Homo sapiens: one gene and its partners. The protein of the gene in region 2 purifies or fractionates together with the protein of the main gene of each other region. This does not show direct contact. Each region holds a gene or a part of one and is shown on either strand. Other genes may lie near its edges. The genes, in order: ABCF1, SLC41A3 and LETM1.

What was found.
Region 1: the proteins of SLC41A3 (region 2) and ABCF1 purify together in Homo sapiens (affinity purification with mass spectrometry; one large-scale study listed by BioGRID and IntAct). This does not show direct contact.
Region 3: the proteins of SLC41A3 (region 2) and LETM1 purify together in Homo sapiens (affinity purification with mass spectrometry; one large-scale study listed by BioGRID and IntAct). This does not show direct contact.

Annotation. Positions count from the first base shown.
Region 1 is NC_000006.12:30,574,373-30,578,023, reverse strand, and holds part of ABCF1 (ATP-binding cassette sub-family F member 1), read right to left. Parts: intron 616-3,651; coding exon 569-615; intron 207-568; coding exon 111-206; intron 1-110. UniProt on the Homo sapiens protein: Isoform 2 is required for efficient Cap- and IRES-mediated mRNA translation initiation. Isoform 2 is not involved in the ribosome biogenesis.
Region 2 is NC_000003.12:126,074,017-126,077,667, forward strand, and holds part of SLC41A3 (solute carrier family 41 member 3), read right to left. Parts: intron 1-3,651. UniProt on the Homo sapiens protein: Na(+)/Mg(2+) ion exchanger that acts as a predominant Mg(2+) efflux system at the mitochondrial inner membrane.
Region 3 is NC_000004.12:1,849,650-1,853,300, forward strand, and holds part of LETM1 (mitochondrial proton/calcium exchanger protein precursor), read right to left. Parts: intron 1-3,651. UniProt on the Homo sapiens protein: Plays an important role in maintenance of mitochondrial morphology and in mediating either calcium or potassium/proton antiport. Mediates proton-dependent calcium efflux from mitochondrion.

The DNA of each region.
Region 1 (3,651 bases), on a different chromosome or scaffold from region 2:
TTCTGCCTCACAGAGGGTTCCCCATCAGCTGAATGGAGCAACATGGGCTGGAAAGGGGTTGGTGGAACCCAGATGCCTCCCAGGATTGGTGGGCCCTGTGGCACTTGTACCTGCTGTTGCTGTTGCTGCTGCTGCTGCTCCTTCTCCTTGAGCACTTTCTCTTCTTCCCCAGCCTGTTTATCTTCTACTGCCAGCTCTTCAAAGAACTATAAAGGGAGTTAAGCTACAGGTAAACATGTTTCCAAGAGCAATCCAAGCAGGCTGTGCTCTGCCACACATTGGCCCACTGGCCCTCCACTCCACCCTCACCTTACCTCCTGTCTCTCTCTTTTTTTTCTTTTTGTGGAGAATGGAGTGTGCAGGTCTCAAATTCCTGGGCTTAAGCTATCCTCCCACCTCTGCCTCCCTAAGCGCTGGGATTACAGGTGTAAGCCACCGTGCCCTGCCTATCTCCTCTCTTGACAAGATCTTTTCTCCTCCCTTGGACCTCCCACCTCCTTCACATGGCTATTTATTTAGCTTGGAAACATCCATAGTCATTTCTTATCCTCAACCCTCATTTTCTCACCGTTTTTTTGATCTTCTTGTCCTTCTTCCCTTTCTTCACCACTTTGTCTAGAAAGTTAAGCGGACATCGTGAATGCTTATCTGCAAATTCCAAAGCAGTCTGATCCCCCCTGCAAAGATCTCTGTAGCCTCTATCCTATTTTATTATTTTTCTAGCTTAACTATCACTCCTTAAATATTTGTACTGTCTCACAACTCCTGCAGAAATAATCATTCCCATCTCTATTCATTCATCCACTAAGTATCTACTAAACAGCTACCATGTGTCAGATATTGTGCTAGCGTAGGGGATCATAGCAATGAACAAGACAAATGTGGTCTCCTCTGGAGCTTGCAGGCTATAGGAAGAGAGATTTTTAAATAGGTAATTCCAGGTGTACTGAAGGTTCCAAAAGAAAAGGTAAAGCCTACTTGGTGGTGGGGGAGAGGCTGGCTTCATCTCTGGTGGCGGCCTCTCTAAGAAGATGGCATTTAAGCAAATAACTGAAGTAATGAGGAGTATGAGAAGTTAGTCAGACACATGGTGTAATTCCAGTGCTGTGCACAGGCCCAGCTGTGAGAAAGCACACACACTGAGAGACAGGGAAAGGTTTGGTATGGCTAAGCTTACAGACTGAGGGGAGAATGGTGCAAGGTAAGGCTGGAGTGAGGGCCTTGTAGCAAGGTTAAGGAATGGGGACTTTATTGGTATGATCACTTTCACACTTTAAAGTTTCACTCTGGCTTCAGAGTACAGCAAGAATCGGAGGGAATAAGCATAGTGGGAAATCCACTGGGGAGGCTGTCAGAGTAGTCTGGGTGGTGGTGACAAGCGGACATAAAGAAGAATTCATAGGATGGGGCTAGAGGTGGGGAATAAAGAGCACCCGGCCGGGCGCGGTGGCTCATGCCTGTAATCCCGGCACTTTGTGAGGCAGAGGCAGGCGGATCACTTGAGGTCAGGAGTTCAAGACTAGTCTGGTGAACATGGTGAAACCCAGTCTCTACTAAAAATACAAAAAATTAGCCAGGCATAGTGGCGGGCGCCTGTAATCCCAGCTACTCAGGAGGCTAAGACAGGAGAATTGCTTGAACCCAGGAGGCGGAGGTTGCAGTGAGCTGAGATCACGCTATTGTACTGCAGCCTGGGTGACAGAGCAAGACTCTATCTCAAAAAAAAAAAAAAAAAAAAAAAAAAAAAGAGCACTCAGAGATGACTCCTGTGTTTTTAGCTGGCAAAATTAGCTGGGCTAAGTGGTACCATTTATTAATTAAGGAGGCAGTGGAAGAGAAGGTCTTATAGGAAGGAAGAAGATATTATAAATTCAATTTGGGAGATATGTGTAGATACACACACATGTATACAACACACACACACCCTCCTTTTTTTTTTTTTTTTTTTAAGAGACAGGGTCTTGCTCTGTCACCCAGGCTGGAATGCAGTGGCATGATCATAACTCACTGTAACCTTAAATTCCTAGGCTTAGGTGATCCTCCCACTTTAGCCTCCTGAGTAGCTAGGACTACAGGCAAGCGCCACCATGCCTGCCTAATTAAAAAAATAATAATTTTTAGAGAGGAGGTCTCACTATGTTGCTCAGGCTAATCCTGAACCTCTGGCCTCAAGCAATTCTCCTGCCTCAGCTTCCCAAACTGTTGGAATTATAGGCCTGAGCCACTGTGCCTGGCCAGGGGGACACGTTGTTTGTAAAACCTATAGGCCATGTAAATAGAGTTATCTGGTAAGCAAATGAACACCTCAGTCTATGCCTTACTTGTTCTGCTTGAATATTATAGCACAAATCACATTGTGTCATATTTACCTGTCTGTGTGCTTTCATTCTAGAGAGTAACCTGAGAGACTGTTTAGCCTGTGTTCCCAGTAAAGCCAAAACAGATTCAACAGATTCTAGCTCTCCCCCTCTCCATCCTTGTTTCCCTGAAGGTAGAGGACCATGTCCAACTCCCTCCCCTACTGGAGGCAGCCTCATGATTTCCCTTCAGGCTTAGGCCTATTTATTATCTTCTCTTCCAAAACATCCCTTCCATTCACTGCTATCTAATTCTACCCTTAAGCATTTCAGTATTTAATATTAAAAAAAAAAAAATTGGTCGGGTGCGGCGGCTCAGGCCTGTAATCTCAGCACATTGGGAGGCCAAGGTGGGTGGATCACAAGGTCAGGAGATTGAGACCAGCTTGGCCAACATGGTGAAACCCCATCTCTACTAAAAATACAAAAATTAGCTGGGCGTGGCAGAGCACGCATGTAGTCCCAGCTACTTGGGAAGCTGAGGCAGGAGAATCGCTTGTACCTGGGAGGTGGAGGTTGCAGTGAGCCAAGATCGCGCCACTGCACTCCAGCCTGGGTGACACAGCGAGACTGTCTCAAAAAAAAAAAAAAAAAAGAAAAAAAGTCAATGGTATCCGCCATCTACTACATTAAAATATTCTCAGACTAGAATTCCATGTATTTCAAAGTAATCATTTATTCAGGAAAGTTTTATGGTGCATCTACTTCTCCAAAAAACTAGAGTTAACGAGAGACAATTCCAATAATTAAAGGCTTCACAGACTAAAATGGCCCTACCCTATCTTTTCTGTTTCCCTACCCACACCTCTGGTCTCGATACTGGCTTCTTTCTGTTCCTTTATGAAGTCCCAGGCACGCTTATGTCTGTCTTTGCTTAATCTGCATCCTCCATCCAGAACACATTTCAAAGTTTGGGGCCCTCCTCCTCCCCAAAAAACAAACCACAAAAAACAAACAAAAAAGTTAAAGAAAAAAAATCTGAGCCCAGTATTGGGTGACTAGTGTGAGAGTTGAAAAATTGTGCAGGATTAATAATAAAAGGCTTTATATGCTATTCCAAGGAGTTTAATCCTAAAGGCATTAGGAGGAAGGATCTACTGAAGTACCTAAGAAGGAAAAACCTGATCAGCTCACCTTATCAACACAGATGACTGACTCATCCCAGACACTAATTTCTCCCCAAGGACTAACACAGCCATACCATCTCTCCTTCCTTTAAATCTCTTTTGTGGCCAGGCACACTGGCTCACGCCTGTAATCCCAACATTTTGGGGACCAAGGTGGGAGGACTGGT
Region 2 (3,651 bases):
TGCAAAGTTGGTTCAATATATGAAAATCAATGTAATACACCAAATTAATAGAATAATGGGGAGAAAACATAGCTCAACAGACACAGAAAAAGCATTTGGCAACAACTAACACTCTTTCACGATAAAAACACTTTAAAAAGTTAGCTTTGGGTTTCTCATAGATGCCCTTAGTCAGGATGAGGACATTCCCTTCTATTCCTAGACATTAAGACAAGAATTCTTACCACAGACAAAGAAGGATATTTGATAATGATAAGAGGAATAGAAGGGAATGTTCTCATCCTGATTAAGGGCATCTGTGAGAAACCCAAAGCTAACAAACTTAGCGAGAGTCTGAAAGTTTTCCCACTAAGATTAGGAACAAGACAAGAATCCCTGTTTTTGCCAATTCTATTAAACACTGTACCTGAGGTTCTAGCCAGCACAATTCAGCAAGGAAAAGAAATGAGACGTATCCAGCTTGAAAAGGAAGAAGTAAAATTATCCCTGTTTACAGACGACATAATCTTATACGTAAAAAATCATAAGGGATCCACATACACACAAACTATTACAGCCAGTAAACAAGTTCAGCAAGGTGTAGGACTGGAGGACGCAGGTCAATACACGAAAGTCAGTTTTTTTGTTTTGTTGTTGTTTGGGTTTTTGGGTTGTTTGGTTGTTGTTTTTTTTTTGTTGTTTTGAGACAGGCTCTCACTCTGTCACCTAGGCAGGAGTGCAGTGGCACGATCATAGCTCACTGCACCCTCAACTTCCTAGGCTCAAGTAATCCTCCCACCTCAGCTTCCTGCGTAGCTGGGGCTACAGGTATATTCCACCATGCTCAGCTACTATTTTATTTTTTGTAGACAGGGTCTTGCTATGTTGCCCAGGCTGGTCTCAAACTCCTGAGCTCAGGTGATCCTCCCACCTCAGCCTCCTGAGCAGCTGGGACTACAGGCATATTCCACCATGCTTGGCTAGTATTTTATTTTTTGTAGACAGGGTCTTGCTATGTTGCCCAGGCTGGTCTCAAACTCCTGAGCTCAGGTGATCCTCCCACCTCAGCCTCCTGAGCAGCTGGGACTGCAGGTATATGCTATCATGCTTGGCTATAGTTTTTTATTTTTTGTAGAAATGAGGTCTTGCTATGTTGCCCAGGCTGGTCTCAAATTCCTGGGCTCAACTGATCCTCCTGCCTCAGCCTCCCAAAGTGCTAGGATTACAGCTGTGAGCCACTGTATCCGGCCAGTTTTATTTTTATACACTAATAATGAATAATCTAAAAGTAAATAAATAAAACAATTGCATTTGCAATAGAAATGCAAGAAATGAAGAAAACTTCAGAACAAATTTAACAAAAGAAGTCCAAAACTTGTACCCTGAAAACTATAAAACATTGATCTCCAGGTTTAATACAATCCCTATTCAAATTCCAGTGGTCTTTTTTTTTTCTTTCTCCCTCCCTCCCTCCCTTCCTTCTTTCTTTCTTTCTGGAGAAAATGACAAGCTGATTCTAAAATGCAAATGGAAATGCAAGGGAACAGAAAATCCTGAAAAAAAAGAATGAAGTTGGAGAACACAGACTTCCTAATTTCAAAACTTATTGTAAAACTTGGTATTGGCAAAGAATAGAAATATAGATTAACAGAACAGAACTGAGAGTCTATAAATAAATTCATGCATCTATGGCCAATGGATTTCTGACAAAGGTATAAAAACCATTGGATGGGGAAAGAGTAGTGTCTTCAATAAACGGGGCTGGGACAACTGAATAATCACATGCAAAAGAATGAATTTGAACCCCTACCTCAAACCACATACAAAAACTAACTCAAAATGGCTTAAAGAGTTAAACATAAGAGCTAAAACTACCTAAAACACTTAGAATGAAATACAGGTGTAAATCCCAGGGACTTTGGATTAGGCAACAGTTTCTTAGATGTGATATCTGAAGTACAAGCAACCAAAGAAAAAACTGACAAATTGGATTTCATCAAAATTTGAAAGTTGTGTTTCAAAGAACACTCTCAAGAAAGTAAAGACGATCCACAAAATGTGCAAGTATTTGCCAATCATTATATCTAATGAGGGTTTAGTATCCCAAATATATAAAGAATACTTACAATTCAACAATAAAAAGACAATTTAAATGACAAAGGAATTAAACAGACATTTCTCCAAAGATGTACAATGGCCAATAAGCACATGAAACAATGGTTTCACTTAACATTAAAAGATGCTCAGCTTCATTGTTAGAAAAATGCAAATCAAAACCACAGTAAGATACCACCTAACATAATGTTGTCAAGCTTCATCCATGTTGTTACATGAATCAGTACTTCATTCCTTTTTACAGCTGGGTAATATTCAATTACATGGACATATCATATTTTGCTTACCCACTAATGAGTGACAGACATTTGGGTTATTTCCACTTTGGGGCTATTATAAATAATACTCCTATGACTATTCATGTGCAAGTCTTTGTGTGAATATAAGTTTTCTGTTCTACTGAACTGTACATTTAAAAGGGGTGAATTTTATGGTATGAACTTTATATCACAATAAAAAAATTATGAATCATTTATGAGATAATATTAAAGCAAGCACACTTATACTCCCACTAAGTTCAAGAAGCAAAGCATGACCAGCCTCTCCACTCTGAGCCCCTCTCTGATAACAACTCATTCCTCCCCACCCGAGGTGATACTAGCCTCACTCTGGGGATGACCATTCCTCGATCTGTTTTATTTTTTCTTTAGTTTTACAATGTGTGCAGCCCTAAGTGTTACAGCTGAGTTTGGCCTACTTTGCGATTTAGATCAACAAAGTAACACTCCACGGATTCTTTTCATGTCCAGTTTCTTTCAGTTGACATTAGATTTCTGAGATTCAGCCATGCTGCCGAATCTATTTTATTGCTGTAGAAAACTGAACTGTATGACTGCCCCACAATCTCTTCATCTATTCTACAATCAATAAACCACCTCAGCCTCCTTTCCTTTCCAAAATGAAAATAACTGGATTATTTTTCCAATTACAAAAGTGACATGTGTTAATAAAAAATATAATTTAGACAATACAAAATAATATAACGAGGCTGGGCACGATGCTCATGCCTGTAATACCAGCACTTTGGGAGCTAGAGGCAGGTGGATCACTTGAGGCTAGGAGTTTGAGACCAGCTTGGCCAACATGGTGAGACCTCATCTCTATCAAAAAATACAAAAAATTAGCCAGGTGTGGTGATGCACACCTGTAGTCCCAGTTACTCAGGAGGCTGACGCAGGAGAATCACTTGAACCTGGGAGGCGGAAGCTGCAGTGAGCTGAAATCGCACCACTGCACTCCAGCCTAGGGGACAGAGTAAGACTCTGTCTCAAAAATAAATAAATAAATAAATAAAATAACACTTTAAAAATCACTGACAATTTCACTATTCCAAAATAATCAGTGCAAGTCTAGTGTATATCCTTCCAATGTTTACCCACACAGACACAGGCCCACACACTCACTGTTTTTTTTAATCCATGTTCTAGATCCTGGATTTTATTTGATAGAAAGTATACATCTCTGGCCCGTGTTCAGTAAAATGTCTACATGCCTGCTTGTCATCCTTGCTTGTCAATCACAGTTTCAGGTAAGGAATGAGGTGGTAGGCTTATGCCT
Region 3 (3,651 bases), on a different chromosome or scaffold from region 2:
GGGCTCAAGGGATCCTTTTGCCTCAGCCTCCCAAGTAGCTGGGACTACAGGTGTGCACCATCAGGCCAGGCTAATTTTTGTAAAGACGGGGTTTCGTTTTGTTGCCTAGGCTGGTCTCCAACTTTTGGCCTCGAGCGACCCTCCTGCATTGGTCTCCCAAAGTGTTGGGATTACAGGCGTGAGCCACCACTCCCAGCCTGAAACCTTCTTTTAAGTCTGAAAGAAGGCGGGGCGCCGTGGCTCACGCCTGTAATCCCAGCACTTTGGGAGGCAAAGGCGAGTGGATCACCTGAGGCCAGGAGTTCAAGACCAGCTTGACCAGCGGTGAAACCTCATCCCTACTAAAAATACAAAATTAGCCGGGTATGGTGGCACATGCTTGTAAACCCAGCTACTTGGGAGGCTGAGTCAGGAGAATAGCTTGAACCTGGGAGGCAAAGGTTGCAGTGAGCTGAGATCGCACCATTGCACTCCAGCCTGGGCAACAAGAGTGAAACTCCGTCTCAAAAAGAAAAAAAAAATCTGAAAGAGTACAGATCTCTTTTGTAGAAACCTCTGTAAGTTTCTGGAAGCCAGTTCTGAGTGTTGGAAGGTTTCAGAGCACTGCTAAGTGAAGGGTCTGCCCCAGTTATGAAAACAGTATCTCAAAGTAGTCCTAAAAAAAGATGGGAAGCCTCAAGTAGATCCTGACTCCAGACACCCCAAGAGGGAAGCCAAGCAGGCCAGCCCTAGGGAGGGAGCACTCCTACCGGTGGCACCATCCCCACTCACTTCAGCTGGCTCTGGTGGAAACATGACCTCTATGCAGACAGCCCTATAGAGCAAGCAATGATCCCAAGGGGCAAGAGCTGTAAGAATTACTACAACCGGACCGGGCGCAGTGGCTCACGCCTGTAATCCCAGCACAGACGTGAACCCGGGAGGCGGAGCTTGCAGTGAGCTGAGATCGCACCACTGAACTGCAGCCTGGGCGACAGAGCAAGACTCTGTCTCAGAAAAAAAAAAAAAAAAAAAAAGAATTACTAGAACCACAGGCCGGGCATGGTGGCTCACGCCTGTAATCCCAGCACTTTGGGAGGCTGAGGCGGGTGGATCACCTGAGGTCAGGAGTTCAAGACCAGCCTGGCCCACATGGTGAAACCCCATCTCCACAAAAATAAAAAAAAATTAGCCGGACATGATGGCAGGTGCCTGTAATCCCAGCTACTCGGGAGGCTGAGGCAGGATAATCACCTGAACCCTCCGGGAGGCAGAGGTTGCAGTGAGCTGAGATCGCGCCATTGCACTCAAAAAAAAAAAAAAAAAGAGAAGAACCACAAAAACACCAAGAGTAAGCCATTTCTTGTATAAACAACAGTGATAAGTGTACAGCACATTTTTAGGATTTCAACATGTTTTTGATGCTTTCCCTAACTTGCTCTAGTTCCTATAAGCATAAAGTCAGAGTTCATTCGTATTACTGACATTCAGAGCCCATTGTGATCAAACTTCATGCTGGGAACAAGACAGGAATAGGAGCAGCAGGGCCAGAGGCACCAGCCCACGGAGGTGCCAGGCCAGGCTGTGCAGAGGCTAGGCGGTGCCGGGAGCCAGCAGGTAGCACCCTGAGATGCCCAGTGACCTTGAACCTCCAAGCAGTGGGGTTGCAATGAGTCAACAGCCAGGGAGCAGCAAGTGCAGCTTTAAGATGGGGGGAGCTCACTCCAGCCGGCAACGAGAGCCACCGTGAGAGGACGAACAAGATGGGGAGGGCAGGCACTGACCCTGCTCCTAGTGGACCGATACGTCACTTCACCTCATTTAACAGGAGGCAACTCTCCTGGTTCTGTGGGGAAGGAAATTCCTACTACGTGCCACATTTAGGGCTTGTAACAGTCCGGTCTGTGAACTGGGAGCTGGGTTAAGGGGAAAATGTTGGCTATGTTCTCATACACAGCAAGTTACATTTTAAGTTAAAATTCAAAGCACAGCACACGTGAGCATGCCAAGGCCCTTCTCACTCCAGCTGAGACTAGCTTTGGCCCCCACCTTTCTCCACATGAAGAGGGCCCAGCGCATTCTCCGCTATCCTCCCCACACCATGGCACCTTCAGCCCCTCCACCCCTGCCCCGGCCAGCTCCTGTGCCTCAAGGGCTCCGCCCGGCAAGCAGGCAGGCTGGCAGGTCTCCCAGAGTTCCCTGATCTGTCCCCCAGTGACCCTACCTTCTCTCTAACACTGCCTGTCCCACTGGCTCCCTTACTAGGCTCTCCCCAAAACCTGTTCTGACGGCTTCTGTCCCCAGCTCTCCAAGGAACCCCCAGTCAAGGCCGTTCGGGGTGATGGGGATCATTGCTCCACGTCCCTCACGAGCACAGGTGTCATCTGTGCCCAGGCCCTGCTGGGAGCCCTTCTGTTCTTTTTTCCAACACCAACGAATTCTCCAACTGGGAGTCCAACAATTTAATTCCATACTGACACTACCCAGAGTTAGTGCAGACCTCACAGGGTACGGGCTCAGTCCCACAAGACTGCCCCCACTCCATGTGCCCAGGCTTACCCAACTTCAGCTGACCACACATTTGAGGGTTCCCATGACCGCCTTGGTTTTGATCATTCACAAGAATGACTCAGATGTCAGCAATGGGCTCTACTTACTGTCACAGTTTATTATAAAGGGTACCTGGTACCTAGGAACAACCAGACAGCATGGCCAGGGAGGTCCCGAGCACAGGATCCTTTGTCCTGTGGAGCTAGGTGGACGCCAGTGGGAAGCCTCACCAGCCTCCTCACCCAGAAGTTCTCATCAAGGCTTCATGACTGATTACAGTATTGGCCCACTGGCCATGGGGACTGAACTAAATCTCCAAACCCTCTCGCCTCCCTGGAAGGGGCAGGAAGTTCCCACCCTCTAATCACAGCATGGCCAGCACCTCAATCTATCTAAGGGCCTGCCTGGAGTCACCTCATCAGCATAAACTCAGGTGCAGTGATAACGAATAACAGAAGACACTCCCAAACTCACGCCTGTAATCCTAGCACTTTGGGAGGCCAAGGCAGGTGGATCGCTGTTGAGCTCAGGAGTTAAGCCTGAGCAACAGAGACCCTGTCTACAAAAATGTTAAAACATCAGCTGGCAGGAGGATCGCTTGGAGGCTGTGGTGAGCCATGATCAAGCTACTGCACTCCAGCCTGGGTGACAGAGCAAGACCCTGTCTCAAAATACAAACAAATGAAAAAAGACACTCCCATCATTCAGGAAACTTCCAGGGTTCTCAGCCCTCAGTGCTGGTGCCAGGATCAGGTCAAAGAACAAACAAACCTTTCTTCACCTGGCTTCACCCTTGCCACTCCTGGGAGAGCCTCCCTACCTGACCTCCACCTCCTCCCCAGGCAATCTCTTCCCTGACTTGAATACACACGCCCCACAGGTCTGATGGGCACGGCACAGTCCACACCTCCAAGAACTCTCAACTAGCGCCCCTCCTCATTCTGCTCCTCCCCAAGTCCTCCCCAGTTTCAACAAATGGCACTGTTGTCCCCAGGCGGCTCAGGCCAGAGGCCACCTCTCCCACACAGCCCTCACTGTTGTCCCCAGGCGGCTCAGGCCAGAGGCCCCCTCTCCCACACAGCCCTTGGAGTCAGCCCTGCTTCTGCTCGTAAAGCGACTTCC